Linked DNA regions of Homo sapiens. The protein of the gene in region 3 purifies or fractionates together with the protein of the main gene of each other region. This does not show direct contact. Each region holds a gene or a part of one and is shown on either strand. Other genes may lie near its edges.

Evidence for each region.
Region 1: the proteins of CYP8B1 (region 3) and HERC3 purify together in Homo sapiens (affinity purification with mass spectrometry; 2 studies listed by BioGRID and IntAct, with this or other methods). This does not show direct contact.
Region 2: the proteins of CYP8B1 (region 3) and TACSTD2 purify together in Homo sapiens (affinity purification with mass spectrometry; 2 studies listed by BioGRID and IntAct, with this or other methods). This does not show direct contact.

Annotation. Positions count from the first base shown.
Region 1 is NC_000004.12:88,665,436-88,672,547, forward strand, and holds part of HERC3 (probable E3 ubiquitin-protein ligase HERC3), read left to right. Parts: intron 1-1,941; coding exon 1,942-2,053; intron 2,054-2,456; coding exon 2,457-2,646; intron 2,647-4,424; coding exon 4,425-4,588; intron 4,589-4,703; coding exon 4,704-4,817; intron 4,818-7,112. UniProt on the Homo sapiens protein: E3 ubiquitin-protein ligase which accepts ubiquitin from an E2 ubiquitin-conjugating enzyme in the form of a thioester and then directly transfers the ubiquitin to targeted substrates.
Region 2 is NC_000001.11:58,574,933-58,581,481, forward strand, and holds TACSTD2 (tumor-associated calcium signal transducer 2 precursor), read right to left. Parts: upstream 2,321-6,549; 5' UTR 2,225-2,320; coding exon 1,253-2,224; 3' UTR 501-1,252; downstream 1-500. UniProt on the Homo sapiens protein: May function as a growth factor receptor.
Region 3 is NC_000003.12:42,872,796-42,879,991, reverse strand, and holds the start of CYP8B1 (7-alpha-hydroxycholest-4-en-3-one 12-alpha-hydroxylase), read left to right. Parts: upstream 1-4,112; 5' UTR 4,113-4,175; coding exon 4,176-5,681; 3' UTR 5,682-7,196. UniProt on the Homo sapiens protein: A cytochrome P450 monooxygenase involved in primary bile acid biosynthesis. Catalyzes the 12alpha-hydroxylation of 7alpha-hydroxy-4-cholesten-3-one, an intermediate metabolite in cholic acid biosynthesis.

The DNA.
Region 1 (7,112 bases), on a different chromosome or scaffold from region 3:
CAGGAGAAGAAGGATGTCCTAGTTCCAGAAGAGAGAAATAATTTGTCTTTGCTCTGCCTTTTTGTTCTGGGCTTTCAGCTGACTGGGCGGTGCCTACCCACACTGAATGAGGATGGATTTTCTTTACTTAGTCACTAATTCAAATGCCAATCTCTTACAGAAAACTGACCCAGACATACCCAGAAATAATACTTTACCAGCTATCTGGGTATTCCTTAATCTAGTCATGTTGACTCCTAAATTCAACCATCACCACCCCCTCCCCACAAATGAGTCCCTAACTGGGTTGCAGGAGGTCACTTCAGAAACTCTCTTTGGTTACATTTAGAGATTATAAAGTCATTTACTTTTATAATTAAGGCAGCTGGGATGAGCTCACACAATTCATTTCATATTTAGTAATTAGTTTTTTCCTCTAGGGAAAGATATTCTGGATTATGCTGATGTTGGCCTTCCAGAACAGGGGTTCTCAACCAGGGTGATTTTGCTCCCCAAAGGACATTTGGCAATTTCTGGTAACATTTTTGGTTGGTACAATGGGGAGGGACTTGCTATTGGCATCCAGTGGGTAGAACCCAGCGATGCTGCTAAACATCCTTCATTCCCACCTGCCCAGCAAAGAATCCTCTGGTCCCAAAAGTCAATAGTACCAAGGTTGAGAAACCCCGTTCTAGATGGATAGCTTTCATGACATTTGGGAAGGGCTCTTGGCCAGACTTGTTAGGTTGTTCATCCTTAGTATCACAGATTTCGTATAGAGTTGTGGGGAAAGCCTTTTATTTTTTTTCAAACTGACATCTGTGTATTTCAGAAAGTCTACTCCTGTAGCGTACATAGGATGCATCTCAGGAAACCAATCAAAATGAAGACCAGATTTACAAAGCAATAAATACGTATAGATAAAACATTTTGTTTTTGTTTTCTCAACAGCATAGCAAAAAGCATATGGAAAATTACATATGGGAAACCAGAATTCATTTCTATATTTTGGGCAGATTTATTTTAAAAACAATAACAACAACAACGAAAGACCCAAAAAACAAAGTACAAGCAATTTATCTTCATTTGAGCATAGGGTTCCGATACATATAATTATGATTTTTAAAAAATGTTAGAAACTCTTATGTTTTCAAAAATTATAACATTGCTGTCAGAGTGTATTAAAATCATCTGAATGTGTCCATTACTCAAAAACAGAAGCCTGCTTTGCAAATAGATAGCTCTTTTGTAAATTAACAAATGTGGTATGTTCAAGAGCAGGATATATGAGATATTCTCTAAGTCTCAAAAATGCTAAGATTTTATTTAAGGTTAAAAAAATGATTTAGTTGCTAGAAAGTTAAAAATAGTGGCAATGAAATTAGTCCTTGGGTGAATGTAATTGTATCCTTTGTGTTAACGATGAGAGACATTAACTTTGCATTTACTATAGATCATTTTTATTTTAAATACTTTGGTAAGAAAGGCTTTCAACAAGGAAGTTCTACTGTCATTTGTTGATGAGTGGACCAGTTTGCACAGGGGACGTTATTTGTACCAAGCCACAGCATCTACATCTAGTTCAATGAGCCACAAAAACAGAAAAAAACCAAAAAACACAAGATGAAATCAGGGAAATAATTATTTGTTTATAAACTTCAAGATAGCCTTAACTTGATATGACAGTCCTTGTACTTTGACTTGAAGGAAAACAGATTTAAAAATTTGAAAATTCTTGTAAAAGGAATTCCAGTGTGGTTTATTCTTTGTGAAAGAATAATATTCTGTATTTTGGGTTTATTATTTTGAGATTTATGCAAAGTGTAGTATTTTTGTGGATCTTATCTGCCAGATCAAATTTAAATCTGATTACTAAGAACACAGTATTTTACTTGTTTATAATTCCTATCAGAGTGTTTGCTTTTTCTTTTATTATATACCTTTTTGATTTTGTTTGTTTAGAATTGATGAACATTTTAAAACGAGTCCCAAAATCCCTGGGATTGACCTGAACTCAACTAGGGTGTTATTTGAGAAGTTAATGAACTCTCAGCACTCCATGATTCTAGAACAGGTATGTTTCTATATTTGTAAAGTGCATTCTTAAAAATGCATTTTTGTATCGATGAATTCAACTTCAAGAGAAAAAGAGTAAGATGAAAAAGTGAAAGTCTCCAAATCTTAATTTTGTAAAGTATTTACTCTGGGAATTAGACCTACCTTTTGCTTTCTTTTGGCTTAAACCTTTCCAAGGCAATGCCCCTCTAGAATATACAGTTTGCACTGGCAGGGATCTTTGGCTTTTCTTTTCATGGATGTGTACTGAGGGCCTAGACCAGTGTCAGGCTCATAGTAGGTTCTCAGTGCATAGTGAATGAATGAGAGTTGAGAGTCTATCAAATAGCTTATGAACTTAGAGAAAGTTAACTAGATCTCAAGTATGTTTGAATTTCTCATTACTCTTTTCCCTCATACAGATTTTGAACAGTTTTGAAAGTTGTCTGATTCCCCAGTTGTCAAGCTCACCACCAGATGTTGAAGCCATGAGAATCTATTTAATACTACCTGAGTTTCCCCTACTCCAGGATTCCAAGTATTATATAACATTGACTATTCCCTTGGCTATGGCCATTCTTCGGCTGGATACAAACCCCAGCAAAGTACTAGGTGAATTTGCTAACCTCGATATCAGTGGTTTTATGGTCATTTGTTTTGTTGGTGTGACTCCTGGCTCTCAGTGGATTGAGATCCAAGAATCTATTTGTTGCCATTTAATATCCTTAACACTTAAAACCTTTTTTTCTTTGCTGTTAATTTTTAGCTAACCCTATTTTCAAGTTGAAAATAAAACCATTATTTAGATTATTTGAAATGACTCATGCCAGAATAATCTTGATTTTATAGTATTCACAAACCTAATTTATTTAACTTGAAACTATTTTTTTCTACCACATTTGCTCAGTACCTCAGTATTACTGTACGTTGGTCTTTCTCCTATGTCTAATTTAGGGGGTGGGAGTGAAGTGAACAGTTTCGGTGATACAGAGGTCTCCAAAACAGGAGAGGAAGAAAATGACCTAGTGTGGACTTACCAAATGTTTGTTTTGTTTTTCTTTTTTAGGACCGTTGAGTCCACACTGATTTTTGCAGGCTCCGGACACTTTGCTGAGATAAAAACCTTCCATTCCTCAGTGATTTGGAGAGTGTCTTTCATGGGAGTAGCACCTGAAATGTTTTTATTACTCAAGTGCAGGAAGTCTATCACCTGGCTTTTTACTTTTTTCCCCCCTGGTAAATTTTGTTAGGTGTCATTGCAGCTCAGTAACTTCTGTGTTCCAGATGGACTGGGATGTTACTTGAGTGTGGTCTCGCCGTGAATAAAGAGATTGTGTTCCTGAAGGTGGAATACTGGCTTTTCTATATTGCCTCCACCTTTGTAGAAGAGATAAAAACAGAAATAATAATGAAAGCACTAGTAAATGTTAGTACTTAATTTTTTTTAAGATCAAAAGCCTTTTGGGGGCACATTTTCTCAGGTGTTCTAGTTGATGTGAAACAGAGAGGTGGCAATATCAGAAGAAATCTTACCTGACTTTCAAGTTTTAGAGTTTTTTCATTTTTATTTTTCCAGGCTGGAAAATACAAAGAGAACATAATTGTTCAATTTTACACTTTATTTTTAACTTCTAATTATTGATATTTAAAAGAATACCCCAAAGTAGAGAGTATGCTACAGGTAGTCACCACACAAATTCAGCAGTTGTCAGTATTTTGCCCATTTTATTTCATCTGTCCCTCGCCCTCACCACCTTTTTATTTTTTGTTGGAGTATTTTAAAGGAAATCTCAGACATACTATTTCATTCTTTAAGTATTTCAGTATGGCTGAGTTTATTTCCAACGAAGTATAAGCCAGTGGTATATCTTCTTGTCTGGTTATGAGAAAGCATTTTTTGGTGAGAAGTAAAAATCGTAGTTTTTCAACTAATGATACCTCTTAAAGGGAAGGGAATGGTTGCCATATTGGTGCTGCTTCTAGGGTATGTGGTGCGTCATCCTTTGCATTTCTGCTTCAGGATTTAGTGATGGCTGAAAGCGCTAGGACATAAGAATGCTTTTTGGATTAATACATTGGGCATCACTCCTGCCCAAAATATGTGTATCTTGTCCACATGTAGTCTGGAATTGGACTTTTAAGTTAACCTTCAGATTGAGTCTTTGCAAAAAATCAGACCAGGCTTTACAAAAAAAGCTCCAGGGATTCTTTTACAGCTGTTGTTCTCCCCAAAAAGGTTTTAATGGATTCTTTTTAAAGTCAGTTTTGGGAAAATGTATTTTAGACTAATGTTTATCTTCTAGACAAAGCAATTTTTAACTGGCAGGCAGAAGACATAAATACTTGCCCAAGATTACATGTTGAAATATGTCTTTTCTTTCTTTCTAAAGATAACTGGTGGTCTCAGGTATGCCCGAAATATTTCATGAAGCTGGTAAACCTCTATAAAGGTGCAGTCCTTTATCTACTGAGGGGAAGAAAGACATTCTTAATTCCCGTACTGTTTAACAATTATATCACAGCAGCTCTCAAACTCTTGGAGAAGTTATATAAGGTGAGCATAGGAGGTGCTAGTGGGGAGGGGGTGATTAGATGGTAGGGTAAAATGTCCTAGTGAGATGTTCTCTGGGAAGCCATGTTTCAGTTGTCTGTATTTTGTTCTTCATTAGGTAAATCTTAAAGTGAAGCATGTGGAATATGATACATTTTACATTCCTGAGATTTCCAATCTCGTGGACATTCAGGAAGACTACCTCATGTGGTTCTTGCATCAAGCAGGGATGGTAAGAATTCATAAAGCATATTTTAAAGCTTTAGTCTTTTTATAAGAAAAGCACATGTGAGCTGTATAATATGTCTTTGACTTTGATGTCAGTGTGTCACCTATTCTTCATCCAGCTGGCCTTTTGCATTCTAGAAACTTGGAAGTGCTTTAAGTAATCATCAATGTTATAAGGAGTCATAAATGAGTAGTCACCCAGAATGTTACACATTTTATCAGTTGCCCCCTTTAAAAAAATCAGAGTATCTAAAGTAGTCAAATCCACAGAAACAGAAAGTACAGTGGTGATTGCTAGGGGCTGGAGGCAGGGGAAAATGGAGAGTTGCTATTTAATGAGTATAGCTTCAGTTTTGCAAGATAAGAAAGTTTGGAGATCCAATTGTACACCAGTGTGACTATACTTAACACTGCTGAAAGTGTACACTTAAAAATGCTTAAGATGGTACATGTTATGTTAGGTTTTTTTTTAAACCATAATTAAAAAAACAAGACACATACAAATATGAATTTTTAGCTTTCCTCAAAACTTGGAAGATCTGGCAACACGACCTGTCTTCCCATATGACACCAAGTGGCTGGAGTTCAAGAGTGACTCTTTAGATGAGGCTTATGTATATGCCACAATTCCCACTGCAGCGTAATTTATCCCTGACATTGAGGAAGGGTCATTTGCTAATTATCATCTTCTGACAGCCTACTCCAGTCATCATATGTCAGCTACCTGGACCCCGTAGGCCCCTTCTGATTGAGAATTATGTGTGTGAAAGTGTCACACATCCCTGACCAAGTGCTGTCTCACCGTATTTTAGATATGCCATTCAGGGGCCTGTGGATTCCTGCCTACCACCTCTGGCGTGGCAGGAACTGCTCCTTTTGATAGCACACCAGCTTGGGATATATGCAAGGCTCTTTAGGATCTCCCATCTGTGGAGTATGTGCAAATTTGAGTTAGGTCAGAAAACAGAATGATAATTTGGTTATTGTATTTTGTGAAGCCATGTGCAGCAGATTTGAGGTGAGTCCTTGCCAGTGTAGCAGGTTCATCACCAGTATTAGGGCAATATTTTTCCTGTGGGGTTTTTGGAAGTCAGCAGTTGTCTCCAAAAGCAAGACATTTAAATAGGCTGATCTAACTGAACAAGAAGGATTGTTTTCTTTGTCAAATAATAGATGATGAATGCTAGACACAATGTTGTATTTTTTTCTCTAGAGACTTAAAAAATGCATACAATGTTTTATTTTTAAATAAGATTTTATGATTACCCTGAGAAAACAAAATACTTTTTTTTTGAGACAAGGTCTGGCTCTATCACCCAGGCTGGAGTGCAGTGGCACCATCTTGGCTCACTGCAACCTCTGCTTCCCAGGCTCAAGCCATTCTCCCACCTCAGCCTCCCGAGTAGCTGGGACTACAGGTGCGTGCCATCATGCCTGGCTAATTTTTGTATTTTTTGTAGAGATGGGGTTTTGTGATGTTTCCCAAGCTGGCCTTGAACTCATGAGCTCAAGTGATTCACCAGCCTCGGCCTCCCAAAGTGCTGGGATTACAGGGGTAAGCCACTGTGCCTGGCCAGGAAAATACTTTTTAATATAAATGAGTTAGAGTGTTCTAAATGGGCTGACTTGGGAAATTTAACATGGAGGCTAGTAATGAACTCTGTTTTCACTTTCAAATTTAGGAATTATTAAAAAATAAGCCCTTCTGTTTTATCAATTTATGAATAATTATTCACTGAATAATAACATTATGAGCAGAAAAATAAGCCTGATGAATTATTTAGTCCAACTGCTTTGTTTCTAGATGAGGAAATGGAAGTTAAACAATTTTTCCACTAATTTCATTAGTAGCAGTAAAAGTCAATTCTTCTGATTTCTAATCTACCCTTTCTGTGACTTGATGCTGAATAAAATAAGTCTAACAAATTGTAATTCTTTTTTACTCTGAAAAAGAAGTTGCTCATGTTAAAATCTAGATTATTATGACAGTAGTCTCTGAGTAGAGATATTTAAGTAACTTTTACAATATTTTAAACTTCCTTTCTTTTAACATTTGATAAATATCTTATCAGATCTTGAATAACAGATGCTCATCTCTTCAATAACTATAATAGTTATTAAAGAAATATGGAAAATTACATGAAATTAGTATATGGCCTTTTGTGATTTTTGTGGAATTTTTTTTATTGTATGAGGTACAATGCTATTAGAAATTGAATTTTAAATGTCTTGATATTTTGAAGTTTAATTTAAAATACTAAAGCTATTTCATATGTTATTTTTGTTTAACTACTTTTAA
Region 2 (6,549 bases), on a different chromosome or scaffold from region 3:
GTGTAGGGCCCACTGCAGACTGGCTCTAATTATGTGGGAAAGTCGTTTAATCTTAGAGCCACAACGCTTTGAGATTAAGTGATTTGCTCAAAGGCTAAATGGAAATAGTACCACTTATTTCAAAGTAGGGCTGGGATTCAAAGGAGGTACAGCTCTTGAACTAGAGTTTTCTGTCTCCATTGGTGATAAGCCTTGTTTAGAGATGACCAAAGACTGGCACTCTTTTTCATAAAAGCAGCTAGTTTTAGCTTCCTCCCTCAAGCTCACCCTCCTGCAGTTTGAAGGAAGTTTCCAAATAATCTTATTTAGAAAGAATAGCATTTACACTGGCCAGTTAGGATATCTTAGGACACACCAGAGTAGCAACATGAAACACCCACTTCTGGGGGAAAAAAAAGTGTTATAATTTGAAATAAAAAAAAAATACAAGTCTTGGGAAATTAGAGACCAATGTGATAGAAATCTGGAGGGACTTTTCACAAATGCCGACTTCTGGTTTGTGCCTTTCCCATATTTTATTAAATTCGTGTTTTATTTTAAAAAATTACAGCAACATTATCAAAGACAACATATGTACAAACATTTTACAAAAAAGAACATTACCAATATCAGTGGCAGTAAGGGCAAGCTGAAGAATAAATAGACTGAGTTTCCGGGCAATGTCTGTCCTCAAAGACATCCAAACTGCGTTCAGGCAGCTGAAACAGGCTTCTTTCCCAGTGACAAGCATATGTGGTCAGTAATACAAACGATGGTAAATGAGGCTACTACATAGGCCCAGTTAACAAACTCCTCTTCTCCTCGGGTAGGCCATGATACAAGTGGAACTCATCAAATAATTTAAACCCAAGGCGATAACAACGCTATTTCCCATCTAAACTCATTTAAGCCTTCACAATGTCGCAATGGATTCAGTTACTTGCAAACGATCCCGGGTTGTCATACAGATACTTGTTTTTTACACATAACGCTATGCCATCCCTTCCTTCACTGCCCCAGTCAGGTTTCCTGTTGTTGGACCGAAAGGGGATACATTTTAGAAATGCTTCCTTCAAGACAGAAGTGAGAAAGAAAGGAGACCCTGAGGCCAGGATCTATTAAACCTGGTGTGTGCGCAAAAGGGAGGGGGAAGGCAGGAATTTGAAAGGATAAACGTCTCCTTTGCGCCGAGGAATCAGGAAGCGTGACTCACTTGGGTCTGGGACGATACCGAAATCCGGTACCCCACCCCATCCCCTGCCCCGCCGGGTACCTACAAGCTCGGTTCCTTTCTCAACTCCCCCAGTTCCTTGATCTCCACCTTCTTGTACTTCCCCGACTTTCTCCGGTTGGTGATCACCAGGACGGCCATGCCGGCGACGAGGGCCACCACGACCACCACGATGACGGCGATGAGGCCGGCGGTGAGGCGCTTCATGGAGAACTTCGGGGGAATCTCGTCCAGGTAATAGATGAGCGTGCGCTCCACCTGCAGGGGTTCTCCGCGCACGCGCAAGTCCAGGCCGCCGCGGCCCTGGAATAGAGACTCGCCCTTGATGTCCCTCTCGAAGTAGTAGGCGGCATCGCCGATATCCACGTCACCGGCGGCCTTCTGAGACGTGTTCTGCCGCAGCTCGATCTGGATGGTGGGCTGCTCGTAGTGCACGGCCGCCACGAACTTGGGGTGCAGCCGATAGCGCTCGCGGAAGAGCCGCCTCAGCTCGGCGTCCAGGTCTGAGTGGTTGAAGGCGCCGGCGGTGGGGCGGTGGCGCAGGTCAATGAGGATGTGGTGGGTGCGCACCAGCTCATCGCAGCGTAGGCTCAGGTCGCCCTTGTCCGTGCGGCGCACGCCCACCGAGTTCACGCACCAGCACACCGACGTCTGGTTGCACTGGCGCGCCTTGAAGCGGCCCTCGGGGTCGCAGTCGGGGTCGTAGAGGCCATCGTTGTCCACGAGCGCGTGCTCACTCGGCCGCACCAGCGTGCGGGCGTTCTTGGGGGCGCTCATGCGCGCCTTGAGCAGCAGACACTTGGAGGTCAGCGTGGAGCAGTCGACCGCCATGCCCGAGCCCAGCGCGCGGCACTGGCAGCGGCCGCCGGGGCCGTCGGGGCTGCACACGGTCATCTTGTTGGTGGGACACGTGCAGTTGTCCTGCGCGGCCGTGTGGCCGGTCACCGCCGCCAGCACCAGCAGCAGCAGCGGCAGCCGCAGCGGTGGCGGCGCGAGGCCGGGGCCCCGAGCCATGGTGGGGCGGAGGAACGCGGACCGGACGCGGGCGGATGAGGCGCGGGGACTCGTCGGGGCTCGGGCTCCGGCGTCTGGGATGGTCTGCAGGCGTCTGCCGCCCGGCCGCTCCCTCCGGCTCTTATACTCTACCCGACCTGCCCGGCTGGTTCCACCACCGACCGTCCCCACTGGTATTTGGGTGACACATCCCGCCCCCCTCCCCGTCCCACGGAAGGCCAAGCCGGCCCTGCGCCGCCCGCGATAGGATCAGAACAGGGAAGCTGCTCCCGCCTCCTCCGGACCGAAAGCCGGGAAGGGGAGAACCGATACTCACCTGTAGGCTTCTGGGGACCCGCCCTCGGCGCGGCCTCCTGCTACAGACCTGGCGCGTCTGGGCCGCTCTCCCGGCAGAAAGTCTAAAGAGTTTCATTGCAAAGTGTGGCTCGCGACTGTCGCGCTCTCCTCTATACGCGACTCCCTTTTCGTTCTTTCCCAGCCCCAGCCCTCCCTTAATTTCTCTCACTCCCTCTCTTCTTTGTCCAGTTCTCACAGTAGCACACGTTTATATAGTTTACAGTTCACAAACATTATCTCATCCTAACACCAGTCCTGACAGGTAGGGACTATCAGACCCGTTTTATAGGTGGTACTGATGAGGCTTAAAGACCTGAAGTCACACTGCTATCAACTTCCTCATATTTCTGAGAGGGGTCTTTGGCACCCTGCCTAGGAGTGATGAGACCTTAAATAAAGTGTTTGTGGACACGAAGTGACACAGAATCTGAAGGGAAGTTAGGGAAGCAGTTCTGTTACTCACCATATCAAGGGTAAAACACAGGTATCCTGGTGTCCAGAGGGTTAAAAGTTCTGTTAAACACTAATTTTCTGTACCTCACACAAGCGCACACACACAGGCACACACGCACATAATATTTATTTGTGCACTGGCTATAAAGAGACAAACAGGAACAAATTCTTAAAGAGCCAGCAAGACTGTAAAGAGTTTTTTGTACAATTTGATTCTAACACAGCAAATCGTTGCTTTTCTTTTCCTGTATCCCACGTAAGTAGCTGAACCATGTAAATAATGAAAGAATGGAGCCTGTGAGAAATTGCTTGTCTGCCACTGTGTGGCTAGTTTCATGGCATACAGGGGTTGCAATCTCTTTTTGAGTCATTGAGAAAGTCTAGAGTTTCAAAGCTGTGGTAAAATTAACAATAATTAGCAAGCTATAATTATTCCCAGGTCCTCCATCAAAGCACATTTTATATGTTCAGCATTTAATGTGCACCACCAGTCGTGCAAGGGTGTTGTTTAGCAGATGAAAGCCAGCTGGGCCTCTGTCCCATTAATTTTCACGCAATTCCTGAGGCAGGAAGATTGAAATATATTCTGCCTTGACAGACAGAGGAAGCAGAGACATGTGAGGGACAATTTCTTTTTTCTTTTTTTTTTTTGAGACGGAGTTTTGCCCTTGTTGCCCAGGCTGGAGTGCAATGGCGTGATCTCGGCTCACCACAACCTCCGCCGCCCAGGTTCAAGCAAGTCTCCCGCGTCAGCCTCCCGAGTAGCTGGGATTACAGGCATGAGCCATCAAGCCTGGCTAATTTTTTTTTGTATTTTTAGTAGAGACAGGGTTTCTCCATGTTGGTCAGGCTGGTCTCAAACTCCTGACCTCAGGTGATCCGCCCACCTCAGCCTCCCAAAGTGCTGGGATTACAGGCATGAGCCACCACGCCCGGCGAATTTTTTTTTTTTTTTTTTTTTTTTTTTTTTTTTTTGAGACGGAGTCTCGCTCTGTCACCCAGGCTGGAGTGCAGTGGCATGATCTCAACTCACTGCAAGCTCCACCTCCTGGGTTCATGCCATTCTCCTGCTTCAGCCTCCTGAGTAGCTGGGACTACAAGCGCCTGCCACCACGCCCGGCTAATTTTTTTGGTATTTTTAGTAGAGACGGGGTTTCACCGTGTTAGCCAGGGTGGTCTCGATCTCCTGACCTCGTGATCCGCGTGAGGGACAATTTCTTATCCACAAACATGAGGAATTGTGGGATAGTCCTCTGCTGTCTATCCCCACTGTCTCTGTTCAGGTCTTCCTTGGACAGATATCTGAGTCAGGTTCTAGTTTCTTTTCCCCTCTCCGACCTCGGTCCACCCTGCATCCAAGAAGACTTTCTAAATCAGAAGTCTGTGCCCACCTCCTCTCTGTTAAGTAGAGTGAGGGGGGTGCTCTCGGCTCTCCAGATAAAATTCATGCTTCTTATATTAGCCCTTAAGATCATTCCTATATGATGTTATAGGCAAGCTACGTCTCTGTGCCTTAGTTTTGTCATCTGTAAAATGGGGATAATAAAAGTACCTACCTTACAAGGTAGGTTTTATAGTTAATGCAGATAAACTGCTTTGAAGAGTATCTGTTCTAACAGTATCTACACATAGTAAGCAACGGATAGATGTTAGCTGCTGTCATTTGTCATCATCGTTGTCGTCGTCGTCGTCATCATCATCATCATCATCATCGTGCTCCTGCCAACCTCTCCGGCAGTCCATGTTTTCAAGTCTTTGCAAAGTCACCTACCTGGAGTCTCCCTTTCTTTATTTAGTGCATAATTCTGTTTTTCTACTCAGCTCTTGAGTCACCTCCAAGATGCCTTCCCTAATAAGGCCCTCCCTGTTACACTCAGGGATATGCCTCTCTATTCGTTCCTAATCTCAGACATACTAGGATGGCAACATTAACTTTTCTGGGCTTTTGTCCTCCCATCTGTCAAATGGGCAAAATACAGCCTGTTTCGTAGATTATGCTGAGACTCAAATACAAAGAGATGAGATGGTAGATGCCAAAGCTTTGTAAACTCTAAGACTCTGTAAAAATATTAGATTTCACTTTTATTTCTAAAATATATATACCCTCTTCTTGCTTTTCCAGGTATTAACTAGGTAGCCACAATGTTCTATAACTAGCAGAGTTCTCTATTTTCCATTCCATCAGGTCCCAGGCTGGCAAGAGGAAAGCTGATGAGAGAGGGTTCTCAGGGCTGAGGAATTTGTGTGATGGTGTCATTGACTACCAAGCTAGAACAGCCCCACATGGGTGGTACTGGGGCTAGTGCTCTGAGGCATCCAAGCCTTTGCTTCTTCCAATTATGTTAGGTACTGAGAGGACAGGAATAGAAGGGGCCCAGCCTCAATATCTTCTGGGGAAGTTAGAGTAAGGCAAAGATGACCTCCTAATCCCCTCCCCCCACAGACTCCACTTGCTTAAATTCTCTGGTTCTGCCAGGCTTTCCCCAACACACACAAAGACCACAATGAGTTTATTATGTAAACACAGTCTCAGCTGTGATTCTCCCTTTTCCCTTCGTCCTTTTTCTGCCAAGTTCTGCAAAATAGCATGTATTAGCTTTATCTCTTTTTATTTATTTATTTATTTATTTTTGAGACAGAGTTTTGCTCTTGTCACCCAGGCTGGAGTGCAGTAGCATGACCTCGGCTCACTGAAACCTCCGCCTCCTGGGTTCAAGTGATTCTCCTGCCTCAGCCTCCCAAGTAGCTGGGATTACAGGTGCTCAACACCATGCTCAGCTAATTTTTGTATTTTTAGTATAGACGGGGTTTCACCATGTTGGCCAGGGTGGTCTCAAACTCCTGACCTCAGGTGATCCTCCCGCCTTGGCCTCCCAAACTGCTGGGATTACAGGCGTAATCCCACCACACCCAGCCTGTATTTTTTAATTTTAATTTAAAAAATATTTAACACAAGCATTTCAGGCTTGTCATGTGTTTATGAGGGGCGGGAAGCACATATAAGCACTGTATGTAGCCCCAGCACCAGAATATTAGGCACTAAGTAATGTTTATTGGATTAACACTGAGTTGTGCCCAGAATGTTTCAATATCAATATATTCTCCTAGGAGTGTTCATGTGGACCATTTCAGTACTTCTTTCCTTGTCTAAGCCTCACCACCTGCCCCAACCATGAATCTCTGTCCCTACCCTAACCCACCCTCCAAACACCCAATTTCAAGGAAGACTGGGTAACGATGCCCTTATTGTCATTTTTGTCCAATCCTTAACTTTTGTCAGCCTTGTGCCTGCAAGGATGAAGGATATGATCTGAGGACACCAAGAGCAGCCAAAGATTCTATAAGCAAGTGTATAATGTAGTTGAAAGAAAATGGACCTTGGATCCAGTGAGACTTAGGCTCAAGTTTTGGCTTCACACCACTCACTGCTGTGTGTTTCTCAGCAAGTTGTTTCAGCACTCTGCGCCTCAGCTTCCTTAACTGTAAAATGGGGGTAACAGGGCCTACACTGCATCAATGCCTGTGAAAACAATGAT
Region 3 (7,196 bases):
TTGGAGTCAATGCTCTCAAACTCTACTGCTGCTTTACTAACTTTATGTAATATTCTAAATTCTTTATTGTCATTTCAACAGTGTTCCCAGCATCCTCGCCAGGATTAGTTTCCATCTCAAGAAACCACTTTCTTAGCTCATCCGTAAGAAGTTACTCCTCATCCATTCAAGTTCAATCAGGCGATTGCAGCAATTCAGTCACATCCTCTGGCACTACTTCTAATTCTAATTCTCTATTTCCACCCATCTGCAGCGACTTCCTCCACTGAAGCCTTGAACCCCTCAAAGTCATTCATGAGGGTTGGAATCAACTTCTTTCAAACTCTTGTTCATGTTGATATGTTAACCTCCTCCCATGAATCACAATTGTTCTTAGTGGCTCTAAAATGGTGAGTTCTTTCCATAAGGTTTTCAATTTACTTTGCCCAGATCCATTAGAGGAATCGCCATCTACAGCAGCTATAGCCTTACGAAATGTATTTCTGAATACTAAGACTGAAAAGTTGAAATTACTCCTTGATCCATGGGTTGCAGAATGGATGTTGTGTTAGCAGGCATGAAAACAACATTCATCTCTTCGAACATCTTCCTCAGAGATCTCAGGTGCATTGTTAATGAGTAGTAATACATTGAAAAGAATCTTTTTTGTGAGCAGTAAGTCTCAGCAGTGGGCCTAAGTAAACCATGCTGCAAACAGATGAGCTGCCATCCAGGCTTTGTTTTGTTTGTTTTGAGACAGGGTCTCACTCTGTCGTCCAGGCTGAAGTACAGTGACATGATCTTGGCTCACTGCAGCCTCAACCTCCCAGGCTCAGGTGATCCTCCCACCTCAGCCTCCCAAGTAGCTGGGACCACAGGCATGCACCACCATACCTGGCTAATTTTTGTAGAGACAGGGTTTCACCATGTTACCCAGGCTGGGCTCCAAGCTCTGGGCTCAAGCAATCCACTTGCCTTAGCCTTCAAAATTGCTGGGATTGCAGGCGCGAGCCACCACACCTAGCCTTGCTACTTATAGAGTACAGGCAGAGTAGATTTAGCATAATTCTGAAGGGCCCTAGGATTTTCAGAATGGTCGTGAGCTTTGGCTTCAACTGAAAGTCACCAGCTACCTTAGCTCCTAAAAAGAGAGTCATCCTACCCTTAGAGGCTTTGAAGCAGGGCATTGACTTTGCTCTAGGAAAGTCCTTAGATGGTCTCTTCTTCCAATATAAGGCCGTTTCATCTACATTAAAAATCTGTTGCTTAGTGTAGCCATCTTCATCAATTATCTTAGCTACATCTTTTAGATAACTTGCTGCAACTTCTTCATCAACACTTGCTGCTTCACGTTGCACTTCTATGTTATAGAGATGGCTTCTTTCCTTAAACCTAATGAACCAACCTATGCTACCTTCAAACTTTTCTCCAACTGCTTCCTCATCACTTTCAGCCTTCATAGAATTGAAGAGAGTTAAAACATTGCTCTGGATTAGGCTTTGGCTAAGGGAATGTTGTAGCTGGTTTGATCTATGCAGGCCACTAAAACTTTCTTCATATCAGCAATAAAGCTGTTTTTCTTATTATTCATGTATTCACTAGAGTAGCACTTCTAATTTCCTTCAAGAAATTTTTTCTTTTGCATTTACAACTTGGATAACTGTGTAGTGCAACAAACCTAGATTGCAGCCTATCTTGGCCTTCCTCACTAAGCTTAATCATTTCTGGCTTGTGATTTAAAGTGAAATTTAAAGTGATTTAAAGCGCAGCTCTTCCTTACACTTGAACACTTAGATGCCATTGTAGGGTTATTAATTGGCCTAATTTCAAAATAGCTGTGTCTTGGGAAACAGGAAAGCCCAAGGAGAGATAGAAAGAGGGGAGAACAGCTGGTCAGTGGAACAGTCAGAATACACACAACATTTACCAATTAAGTTTGCATCATATATGGGCCCAGTTCATGGTGCCCCAAAACAATTACAGTACTAACATATCACAGATCGCCATAACAGCTGTAATGATAATAATGAAAAAATTTGAAATATTGTGAGAATTACAAAATGTGACACAGAGACACAAAGTTAGCACACACTGTTGGAAAAATGGTGCCAATAGTTTTCCTCAATGCAGGGTTGCCACAAACCTTCAATTTGTAAAAAACATAGTATCTGTGAAGTGCAATAAAGCAAAGCACATTAAATGAGAAATATGTGTATAATTACTTTGGGCAGTGATTTAATATCTTTCTCCCTCCATTAGACCATAAACTGCAAGAGAGCAGGGACTGTGTCTATCTCATTCATGATTATAATCCCAGATCGTAGCAACATTTCTGCCAGTAAGTGCCCAATAAATATCTAGTGAATGGATAGATGGGGCTTCTCCAAGGAAGGAGGGAATGAATAGATGAGTGTGGGTTAATGAATGAGGTAAGAATGAATGTGAAATAATGGTTCATCCATTAAAAACTAGGGGACACGGTTCAGTTCATTGGATTTGGCCCAGTTTCAGACCGAATTCTAAGGTTGAGGAGAGTTGATGATGCCAAGTACTGTGGTGGTCCTGAACAATTAAAGAGGGATTCTGGGAAGCAGAGTGTGGACAGTTCCAACTCCCTGCCAAGGGGAAGCTCATAGGCAAAGGAAGCTCACTCCAGAGGGGATATGGAAGTTCCATACCCTCTTTTGTCTGAAGAGCCGAAGTCCCTGTTCTCAGGTCGTTAGGAAGTTAAAAAGTAATTTGGAGGTTATCAGAACTGATTGAATTGAGTTTGAACCTCACCTATAGCAACAATGGGCCAGGCTGCTTGACTAATGCCTTGGCGTCAATGGTACAGTTTTCTCCCTCTTGAGCTGCTGGCAGGGACCTGGGCTGACATGTCTCAGAAGGCCCTTAGTCAATGATTAGCTTATCTCAAGGCCCCAAGCCAGGGCAGCTGTCAAAGAGGGTCCCCACTGCGTTCTGCACCTAGATCCTCATTGTGAAATGAAGTATGAAGTGATTGAGTGAGGTCTCTATTGTCTCTGACATTTTACAATTCCAGGATTCTGCCTTCTTGTCAGAGAAGTGTATAGGCAAGCAGTTGGGCAGGTGAGAGGGCTCCGGGTGAGAGGCTCAGAGACTGAGGGCTCAGCCTCTGCTTGAAGAGTCATCATCTGGGAGGCTCTGTGGCCTCCTCAGATGAGTTCATTCACACTCATACCCCAAGATGGAGTCAACACCCCCTCCACCATCTCAGCCTTCTCAGCATCTAAAGCCCCAGCATCAATGCCTCTTTTTTTGGGTTAGGGGTCAGAGCTGTTGTGGAAGGGCATACAGTCATTCTTCACTTGCCTTTGACTGTGTACTCTGTGCACATGGAGGTAGGAGCAGACATGACTTCAACAAGGTCATGCCCCCTTGGCAAGCATCTTTGAGACCAGAGAGGAAGACAGACTAGGGAAAGAATGAGGAGATAAGCACGGGCTGCTGTGAGGTCCAGGGGAGCAGGCAAAGGTAAGAGAAAAGGCTTTAGGATACTAACTAACATATATGGAGCACTAGCATGAGCCAGGCACTATTCTAAGTGCTTTTCAGGTGTTATCTCTTTTTGCCTCACAACAGCACCTACAAGGCACTGTAATTATCCCTACTTCACAGATGAGGGAGTGGAGCCACAGTGAGGTTAACTTACTTGACCAAGGGGGCCAAGTAGGAATGGAGGCATTTGTTGAGTCTTCTAAAGATGAGGAAAGAGTGGAAGTGAGATTTTGTAAGTGCTTGATTCATTTCTACCAACTGAACTGGCAAATAAATAAAAGCATGAGTAAATGGGGGTATAAATAGTCTGTCAGCTATGGGGGTGGGAGTGGGCTCAAGGCAGGCTTAGAGAGAAGGTGCAAGAGCTGTCTGAAAAGGTCAGAGCAAAGCATGAAGCTGGTGAGCAGCTGTGACCATAGCTGGAAGCTTCTCTCTGAGCTTTCTCCTGGTTACCTCCTCCTCCCCTACGTGACCAGTCAGCCAAGTGTTAAGTCCAGGGGAACATTTTGCTGCTTCCAAGTACTGTCTCACTAGTGTTATTTGCCATAACTTGCGGCCACAGGGCAAGGTCCAGGTGCTCAGACCTTTACATCCTGGACTTTCCAAGGCCTCCCAAAGCTCTCTGGCACCCAGGGAACAGTGTGCGTGTCGAGAGCTTAATCCGCAGGAGCATAGCCATGGTTCTCTGGGGTCCAGTGCTGGGAGCTCTGCTGGTGGTCATTGCTGGATACCTGTGCCTGCCAGGGATGCTCCGACAACGCAGGCCATGGGAGCCCCCTCTGGACAAGGGTACCGTGCCCTGGCTTGGCCATGCCATGGCTTTCCGGAAGAATATGTTTGAATTTCTGAAGCGCATGAGGACCAAGCATGGGGATGTGTTCACAGTGCAGCTAGGGGGCCAGTACTTCACCTTCGTCATGGACCCCCTCTCCTTTGGCTCCATCCTCAAGGACACACAGAGAAAACTAGACTTTGGGCAATATGCAAAAAAACTGGTGCTGAAGGTATTTGGATACCGTTCAGTGCAAGGGGACCATGAGATGATACACTCAGCCAGCACCAAGCATCTGAGGGGGGATGGCTTGAAGGATCTTAATGAGACCATGCTGGACAGCCTGTCCTTTGTAATGCTGACGTCCAAAGGCTGGAGTCTGGATGCCAGTTGCTGGCATGAGGACAGCCTCTTTCGCTTCTGCTATTACATCTTGTTCACAGCTGGCTACCTGAGCTTGTTCGGCTACACGAAGGACAAGGAGCAGGACCTGCTACAGGCAGGAGAGTTATTCATGGAGTTCCGCAAGTTTGACCTTCTTTTCCCAAGGTTTGTCTACTCCCTGCTGTGGCCCCGGGAGTGGCTAGAAGTGGGCCGACTCCAGCGTCTCTTTCACAAGATGCTCTCCGTGAGCCACAGCCAGGAGAAGGAGGGCATCAGCAACTGGCTGGGCAACATGCTTCAGTTTCTGAGGGAGCAGGGGGTACCCTCAGCTATGCAGGACAAGTTCAACTTCATGATGCTCTGGGCCTCCCAGGGGAACACGGGGCCTACCTCTTTCTGGGCCCTCTTGTACCTCCTGAAGCACCCAGAAGCTATTCGGGCTGTGAGGGAGGAAGCTACCCAGGTCCTGGGTGAGGCCAGGCTGGAGACCAAGCAGTCCTTTGCCTTCAAACTCGGTGCCCTGCAACACACCCCAGTTCTAGACAGCGTGGTGGAGGAGACGCTGCGGCTGAGGGCTGCACCCACCCTCCTCAGGTTGGTTCATGAAGACTATACCCTGAAGATGTCCAGTGGGCAGGAGTATCTGTTCCGCCATGGAGACATCCTGGCCCTCTTTCCCTACCTCTCAGTGCACATGGACCCTGACATCCACCCTGAGCCCACCGTCTTCAAGTACGATCGCTTCCTCAACCCTAATGGCAGCCGGAAAGTGGACTTCTTCAAGACAGGCAAGAAGATCCACCACTACACCATGCCCTGGGGTTCGGGCGTTTCCATCTGCCCTGGGAGGTTCTTTGCACTCAGTGAGGTGAAGCTCTTTATCCTGCTTATGGTCACACACTTTGACTTAGAGTTGGTGGACCCTGACACACCACTACCCCATGTTGACCCGCAGCGCTGGGGTTTTGGCACCATGCAGCCCAGCCACGATGTGCGCTTCCGCTACCGCCTGCATCCTACAGAGTGAGCTTGGCCAAGCCAGCTGCAAACCTGGCCAGAGGAGTTCTATTGCATCTCTCACCTGTTCTCACCCCTCTGCAGCCCCAAGACCCCACTGGCCACCCCTCCCTCTGGTCCTGTGGCACCCCCTACCTCTGTTCTGCCTGTCCTCGCTCTCTCCCCGCCTAGTCATCTGACAGGCTTATCATTCTCTTTAAAATACCATCTCTCAGAGTGGGTTCTGCCGAACCCTCCTCTCACAGGAAGTCCAGAGGAAGGGGGAGTATCTGTGGGCAACTTGGTTTGGGAGATGATGCCTGCCTTGAGAAGTCCTGAGTACAGAGACTGGTTCCCCCCAGACACGAGTAACATGGCATCTTGCAAACATCAGCCTCCACTCTCCCAGCTTGCTTTAGTTTTTTCAGCAACACTTATCCCACATCCTATGGAATTCAGGTTCTAGAACAGTGTCATCCAACATAAATATGAAGCAAGCTACATGAGTAGTGGGGTTTTTTGGTTTTGTTTGTTTGTTTTGAGACAGAGTCTTGCTCTGTCGCCGAGGCTGCAGTGCAGCGGTGCGATCTCTGCTCACTGCAACCTCTGCCTCCTGGGTTTAAGCAATTCTCCTGCCTCAGCCTCCCCAGTAGCTGGGATTACAGGCACCTACCACCTTGCCCAGCTAATTTAGTTTCCTGGTAAACACATTTTTAAAAAGTAAAATGAAACAATTCATTTTTATAATATACTTTACTTAATCCAATATATCCAAAATATTGGCATTTCAACGTGATCACTATTAAAAATTTTAACGTAATAGTTTTTACCTTCCCTTTTTCATCCTGTCTTCAAAGTCTGGTATGTACTGTACTTTTGCAGTTCTTCCCAGTTCAGACTAGCCACATTCCAAGTGCTTAATTGCCGTGTGTGGCAGGTGGCTGCCCTATTGGATAGCACAGGTCTAGAGAAATGATACCTTTTTTTTTTTTTGAGACAGAGTCTCACTCTGTTGCCCAGGCTGCAGTGCAGTGGTGTGATCTTGGCTCACTACAACCTCTGCCTCCCGGGTTCAAGTAATTCTCCTGCCTCAGGCTTCTGAGTAGCTGGGATTATAGGTGCGCACCACCACACCCGGCTAGTTTCTGTATTTTTAGTAGAGACGGCGTTTCACCATTTTGGCCGGCCTCCTCGGCCTCCCAAAGTTCTGGGATTACAGGCATGAGCCACTGTGCCCAGTCAGGATGTCTTTAATGTAGGAATCATTCAAGATCCCTCCTCAGTGCCCATGTCTCCCCCACCTCAGGGTGCTGTCAACCCTCCCTTGGTTTCCATGATCATTGCTGAACTCAGAGCTTTCTTCTATCCCCAGACCCACATGGGAGTCTCCCAGCACCTCTGACTCAGCTTGGCCAATGCAGAACTTGGCATCTGAACCCCTGCCTCTTCCCTGAACCACTCCTCCTCCTGATTTCCCTGCTCTCTCTGCTCAGAACACTACCATTCACCCCATCTCCCAGAGACACTCTCCCTCCTCCTCTTTCAC